Linked DNA regions of Homo sapiens. The protein of the gene in region 2 purifies or fractionates together with the protein of the main gene of each other region. This does not show direct contact. Each region holds a gene or a part of one and is shown on either strand. Other genes may lie near its edges. The genes, in order: GALM and C12orf75.

The links.
Region 1: the proteins of C12orf75 (region 2) and GALM purify together in Homo sapiens (affinity purification with mass spectrometry; one large-scale study listed by BioGRID and IntAct). This does not show direct contact.

The regions. Positions count from the first base shown.
Region 1 is NC_000002.12:38,728,481-38,732,299, reverse strand, and holds part of GALM (galactose mutarotase), read right to left. Parts: intron 2,745-3,819; coding exon 2,603-2,744; intron 566-2,602; coding exon 391-565; intron 1-390. UniProt on the Homo sapiens protein: Mutarotase that catalyzes the interconversion of beta-D-galactose and alpha-D-galactose during galactose metabolism.
Region 2 is NC_000012.12:105,350,875-105,354,693, forward strand, and holds part of C12orf75 (overexpressed in colon carcinoma 1 protein), read left to right. Parts: intron 1-3,819.

The DNA.
Region 1 (3,819 bases), on a different chromosome or scaffold from region 2:
GATCACCTGAGGTCAGGGGTTTTGAGACCAGCCTGGCCAACATGGTGGAACCCTGTCTCTACTAAAAATACAAAAATTAAGCAGGCATGGTGGTAGGCGCCTGTAATCCTAGCTACTTGGAAGGCTGGGGCAGGAGAATCGCTTGGACCCAGGAGGCGGAGGTTGCAGTGAGCTGAGATCGTGCCCAGGAGGCGGAGGTTGCAGTGAGCTGAGATCGTGCCACTGCACTACAGCCTAGGCGACAAGAGTGAGACTCTGTCTCAAAAAACAAACCAAACAAACAAAGCATGAACTTTTGAATCATACAAGCTGATTCGAGTGTAGTGAACTCTGTCGTACAGTGTGACCTTGGACACAACTCTACTCTGAAAAGCCAGCCTGTGGCATTACCTGATTGACTGCATCAGGCCAGTTCTGAGTCTCCAGGCAGAAACCGGAGTGCTTGGGATAGACAGCTCCATTCTTGCCCTTTAATGTGCCATCCAGGAAGTTGCCCGTGTAAAACTGGACCCCGGGCTGGGTGGTGTATACTTCTAGTACCCGCCCGCTTGCAGCATGATGCACCCTGGTAAGAAATACAAACAACATGAGTCCAGGGCAGAAAAGCAGGTGGGGAGGAGTAGAAGCTGGGAAGCGGCTTTGAGACAGGAATCAGACCCAGCCACAGAGCAGGGACAAGATATAAGGAGGAGATGAAGGTAGGAAGAGCATGATGGAAAATTCTTCCAGTCTCAAAGGCAAGGCATGAGCAGGTGGCTTTCAGGATCCTCAGTAGCTTCTTTGGGGCATCACAAAACAGACTCACTCCTGCCAGCTGGGGAGTAGGGAGGAAGGCAGCAGCCAGGTTGGAGAGAGGAAGGTCCTGGAGAGGCTGAGATTCTTTTTTTTTTTTTTTTTTTTTTTGAAATAGAGTCTTTCTCTATTGCCCAGGCTGGAGTGCAGTGGCGCGACCTCGGCTCACTGCAACCTCAGCCTCCCGGGCTCAAGCAATTCTCCCACTTCAGCTCCCCAGTAGCTGGGACTGCAGGTGCGCACTACCATGTCCAGCTAATTTTTGTTTGTTTGTTTGTTTTGAGATGGAGTCTGGCTCTGTCACCCAGGGAGGAGTGCAGTGGTGCGATCTTGGCTCACTGCAACCTCCGCCCCCTTGGTTAAAGCAATTCTCCTGCCTCAGCCTCTAGAGTAGCTGGGATTACAGGTACCTGCCACCACATCCGGCTAATTTTTTGTACTTTTAGTATTGTCGGGGTTTCATCATGTTGGCCCAACTGGTCTTGAACTACTGACCTCAGGTGATCTGACCACCTCAGCCTCCAAAAGTGCTGGGATTACAGGCATGAGAGCCACTGCACCTGGCCTGAGATTCTTTTTTTTTTTTTGAGATGGAGTTTTGCTCTGTTGCCTAGCCTGGAGTGCAGTGGCGTGATCTCGGCTCACTACAACTTCCACCCCCTGGGTTCAAGTGATTCTCCTGCCTCAGCCTCCTGAGTAGCTGAGATTATAGGTGCCCACCACCATGCCTGGCTAATTTTTATATTTTTAGTAGAGACGGCGTTTCACCATGTTGGCGAGGCTGGTCTCAAACTCCTGACCTCAAGTGATCTGCCCACCTCAGCCACCTAAAGTGCTGGGATTACAGGCATGAGCCACCACGCCCAGCCCGGAGAAGGTCTTTGATCTTCTTTCTGTCACTATTTGGTTTGAGTCATTTTTTCTGCTTTATTTAAAAACTGTTGACCGGGTGCAGTGGCTTACACCTGTAATCCCAGCACTTTGGGAGGCCGAGGTGGGTGGATTACAAGGTCAGGAGTTCAAGACCAGCCTGACCAACATTGTGAAACCCCATCTCTACTAAAAATACAAAAATTAGCTGGGCATAGTGGCACGTGCCTGTTATCCCAGCTACTCAGGAGGCTGAGGCAGGAGAATCACTTGAACCCGGGAGGCGGAGGTTGCAGTAAACCTAGATCGCACCACTGCATTCCAGTCTGGGCGACAGAGCAAGACTCCGTCACACACACGCACACACACAAAACTGTTAATTCTGCAAACATTTATTCATTATTTGCTAGTGCCAAGGATGATATTAGGTGTTGGGGTAGAGGTAGGGCTTCACAAAGATGAAATGGCATGAGGAACTGGGATTTGGTGAGAAGGCGAGAGCGTGCACACAAGTGTCTATCGGTCAAGGCTGGAGGCGGTGAGTGCTGCAGGAGATGCCTAGCCTCCAACTGGCCATGGAGTAGGCAGGCATAAGTCACAGATCGAGAAAGCACAAAGGCTCTGGAAGTTCAGTGACAGCCGAGGTGACTTCACTAGGAAGAGTTAAGGCTTCTAACAGAAAATGGGCCTTAAAGAACAGGCAGAGAGGGAGAGAGCGGGTGCCAAGCAGGGGGAATAGGGGTAATGGCAGGTGGGGGACTGGGATAAATTCTACAGAGCTCACCTGTGCCATGGGAGCTTTGAGAAAATATGGGATGTGGTATTGGGTCACTTGTAGCATAGTAAATGCTATTGATATGGCCAGAGGAAAAGCTCCAAAGGAAAATAGGACTTGGTGTCATTTCTTCCTTACAGACTCAGGAAGTGAAAAGTACCTGACCTTGCACAAAAATGCTTTTCTTTAGATCCCTTCAGACAGAAATTGTGGTCAAAACCATTGAGATGGAAGTCCTGCAGGTGTTTTCCAAGCTCCACTGGCTTTCTCAGGTCGAATGCAGTGCCTTGCACTGGGGCAACTTCTCCTGATGGGAAGAGACAGAAAACAAAGGTGATAAATGCCCAAGTCTCATCTTTATATAGAGCCTCCACAAAGGCTCACTGGTTCTACTCTCTCCGCCTTCATTTTAATTTGTTAAGGAGATGGGAGCCCAGATCCTGGGAAACATGCAGAGACCCCATCTCTACCAAAATAATAAAATAAATAAATAAATAAATGTAAAAAATTAGCCAGGCATAGTGATGTGTCCCTGTGGTCTCAGCTACTCAGGAGGCTGAGGCAGGAGGATTGCTTGAGCCCAGGAGGTCGAGGCTACAGTGAACCATGATTGCACCACTGCACTCCAGCATAGGTAACAGAATGAGACTGTCTTAAAAAACAAATATGGAGAGGGTGGGGAAGAGAAAAAAAAAACCCTCAAATAAATAGAGTATATGGGAGTATGGGCTCAGGTTATATGCAAATACTGCACCATTTTATAGAAGGAACTAGAGTATCTAATGATTTAAGTATCAGTAGGGGGTCCTGGAACCAATCCTCCATGGATTCCAAGGGACAATGGAAAATATATACTCATAAATATATAGTAACATATACATAAAAGCCAGAGTTGTTCTAGCTGAATCAAGTACAGGTTCTGAGCAGCGCAGGTGGAAAACCCCAGGATAAGATGATGGCAGAGGTCCACTTCCTCTTAAAATTATGGCCCACCCAGGAGTAGTAACAGCCAGGTGCTAGAACCTTGTACCAAGTACAGAGAATACCAGTTTCCTCTGTAGCAGGCCAAATCACTCCAGCCATTTTTTCTTGAAGAGGAAAAGAAAAGGGCTCTGTTTCAGAGGCTTAAACAATGTTACGGTTGAGTTTTTGTTTTGTTTTGTTTTGTTTTGTTTTTTGAGATGGAGTCTTGCTCTGTCACCCAGGCTGGAGCGCAGTGGCGCGATCTCAGCTCAGTGCAACCTCCGCCTCCTGGGTTCAAGTGATTCTTCTGTCTCAGCCTCATGAGTAGCTGGGATTACAGGTGCACACCACCATGCTTTTGTATTTTTAGTAGAGACGGGGTTTCACCATGTTGGCCAGGCTGGTCGTGAACTCCTGAC
Region 2 (3,819 bases):
AACCGTTCCAGGATGCGAGATGCCATTTAACTACTTAACTATTTCACTATTTAGAATCCTGAATTCTTCAGATTTCCCTTGACTATACCTCATTCTATGTCCTATAACTTTAAAATAAAGTAATTTATTAAATAAATGACCTTTTAAAAACAAATGCAGTGGATTTACCTGGAAAAAGTTAAAGAACATTATAATATTACTTTTCCTTACACAAAAGGTATATTCAGGCACGTTCAATTTTTTAAGTGGAAGCTATAGATTTATAAATCTTGACTGTAATATTAGGTGATGCCATGAATGAATGACGAGCTAAGAAATTAAGATGACACTTAATTTTTTTATTATGCACATTAAAATTTTTTTTTAAAATCTAAACAGACTGATTCCCAAACCAGAAGGATTGGCCAAAATAGTAGAATAAGTACTGAGAGTAAAGAACTTAGAATAGGGCAAACACAATATTATGCAGACCACAGGAAAGTCTTTGTGGGAAAATGGTTGTTATTTTTGGAAGCCAGAAATACTATATATTTAAAAAATCAATTCTCTAGGAAAGGTCTGCAATTTTTACTACTCGTTTTTCTTATTTATTTGCTGTTTTCTATAGGTGAGAAGTCAGTATATAATAATAAATAAAATGATGTATCTGTCCTGAAGTAGTTCACTGTCTACTAGGGACCAAAATACAGTGTGGTAAGTGCTAATTATTCCAGTGTTCAGAATTTAATGCTGGTCTTGGAATTGAAGGATGAACAAGAGTTCATGCAGAAAAGGAGAAAAATGGCAACCCATGGCAGAGGACAAGCATGAAAAAAGGCATGGGAGTGCCAGAGGACAGTAGGTCTGGGACCAGCCAGCCAGGTGGTGTCCCCTGGAGCCTGTGCCTGTGGTACAGTCTGGGCAGAAGTGAAAGATGAGGTTGATGGGCAGGGCTGGCTTGTGAAGGGCCTTGGGTGCAAGGCCAATAATCGTGCTTGTTTTTTTTTATGCATTCAAGGGCTGATAGAGATTTTAAGGTGGAGGAATTAAATGATTATGTTTGAGTTTTAGGGCAGTAACTCCCAAAGCAGTGTGACACATGGGATGAGGGAGGGTGCAGGCACAGAGGAATAATGGAAGTGAGGCTACAAGAGGGTCAGATAGCAGAGGGAAAGGAGAAGAGGTGATACAAACAAGATGCATTAGAAAATGTAATTAATAAGATTTGTTTAATGACTGAACGGGGAAGGAAAGGAAAGGAAACTCTGAGGATAATGCTGCAGTCAAACTTGAGCCAAGGGAAGCGATGGCTGATAGTCCAAAGAGGTCATGGGGGGCTGAAGGAGGAAGAGAAGTCATTGCGTGTGTCATGATGGCCACATTGGTCACCCTGGGGACTGTAGTTTCAGTTGAGCAGGGTGAATGATAACCAAGTCAAAGTGGAAGTGAGCCAGGTGCAAGGAAGTGGAGAGAGTGATGTGGGTCTTTGGTTTTTATGCTGTTTGGCGGTAAGGAATGGAGGGATGTTGGTGGCTTTAAGAGGAGGCAAATTTTCAGAATATACTGTATTAGAAAAAGAATACCAAGGAAATTTGGAAAGTACAGGAAAGTATTTTTTAAGAGAAAAATTCAGTTATTATTCTACCACCAGAGACAATCATTATGAACATTTTACACTTTTCTTCAAGTGTTTTTTGGTTGTTTCTGCCCAGTTGTGAGTATGGTTGATTTTGTGTATTGAAGTTTGTTTTTCCTTTTGTCTTTTTTTAAAAATTATTTTTTGGCATGGAGGAGGCATGGATATTGCTGTAGGCTAAAAGACAGGAACCAGGCGAGTAAGAAAAGCTGATGGTGGTTTGGGGAGGGGGTTTCTCTCTGGTGGTGGAGAGAATAACGATGCATGTAAATCCTATGACAGGCTAGAGAACTCAAAACCTAGCTAGGTTAACCTTCAACACTTGAAAGCATGGTTGACAATGTCTAGAAACTTAATCACCATAAGAAAAAGCCTACATGTGTATCAGAAAACAAGCCTATTTTTCCCTCTCTTTCTGTCTCTTTGAAATTAAATCACAGTGCAGTAACACACTGAACAAAACAAACAAAACAGTGAATTCAAGGTAATGACATTCGGCCGCTTTCACAAACCTGCCAACATCAACCATGTTCTTATTTTAGTGTGGCAGATTCTCAGCTATTTGGCACAAATAGGCTGCGTTGGGATATTTTTGGTAGGAAATGGCAGAAGCCCAGTTTAAACTGGCCTAAACAAACAAACACAAAGGAATTTATTGGCATGTGGAGTGGAAAAGCTCCAGGGACTTGGCTGTAGTCACAGCTGGATCCAGGTGATCAAACAACAGGAAGAAATTCTCTTCTCTGCTTTCGTCTTCATTCTTAGGCAGCTTTCCTCAAGTGGTGACAAACAGGACCAGTTTATATCTTATCAGCTTCCTAATTCCTGTGGAAAAAAGCAGCTTCTTTTTCCTTGTAGTTTGATCAAAAGTCCTAGGGCTGGGCTCTCTTGGCCCGTTGGGGTCATGTTCCTATCTCGGAATCAGTCAGTGGGCCAGGAGAATGTGGGGTGCTCATTGGCCAGGCTGCAGTCATGTGCTCACCACTGGAGCCAATCAGTATCATCAGCCCCACCTTACCATATGGCCAAAGAGCAGAAGAGGGGTGATTCCCCACGGAAAAATTGGGATGCCGTTACCAAAAAAAAGGGGAGAAATTGTAAGTGGGCAAACCGAAACAATTGGAATTTAATTGAAAGCATTTTTTTTTGTAGATCAATTTTCGTGTTCTTAAAGAAGTCTTGATTTAAAGCTTAAGCAATATTTATAAGAATATTATGACTACGTTTCAAATAAGAAACAGTATTAAATAAGTTGACTCAAATATAATGTTTGCTGTTGAAAATAAAAAACCATAGCTACTCAATGTAAACAATGTAATTCAAATACTTCTTTCACTTAAAACATGTAAAGTGAATCTTACTGAGATTCTTTCCTTGGTAAAGCTATTTTATTATTATGGAAGGTAGCAAATACAGGGAAAAATATTTTGGAATGAAATGACATAAAACCCATTGGCAATTTGTTTTTGTTTTTGTGTTTGGAAAAAAGAAATGATAAATCTTTTATGTTGAGTTTCTTGGGATCCTTTATAAATTTACCATGTCTAATGCACCCATGTCAGCTGAGCCCTCTCTGCTCCTCATAGATACAGACCTTAGGGTATCTGATGGGCTCTTTTCTCATCCATGTAGTAGAAGGTAACGCTGTCTTCTGAGGGTGAAGAGGATGGGGTTGAAGTAGCATTGAAAAAGCCTGCATTTTGGAAGCAGAGGGACTTGTGTTTAAAATCCCCTTCACCATTTGCTAGCTGTGTTACATTGTGTCCTTAGTATAATTATCTGTGAAATTGGGATAATATAATAACTGTGCAGGGTGATCATCTTCATCATCATCATTCTTACAGTAGTAGCTAATCTTTACTGAGGACTGTGCACCATACACTGATTTCCAGCATTTTCTGTACGTTATCTCCTTCCATACCCATGATAATCTGATGGACAGAATAATGATGTTTCATTTTACAAGTGAGGAGGTGGGGAGCACAGAGAGCTGAAGTAGCTGCTGGAGGGACAGATTACAAATACAGTATATTTAATATCCTAGGAAAATACTTGGCATTATGCTTGTTGCCCCCGGTGAATGACAGCTAGAATTATTAGTTAGTTTAAAATGTTGTTGAAAAAATTTGGCAGGGCCTCTGACATGAATACTTGATGGCAGAAGACCCAGCATATTGAGGGCCTTGCTGTGGTTAGAAATCATA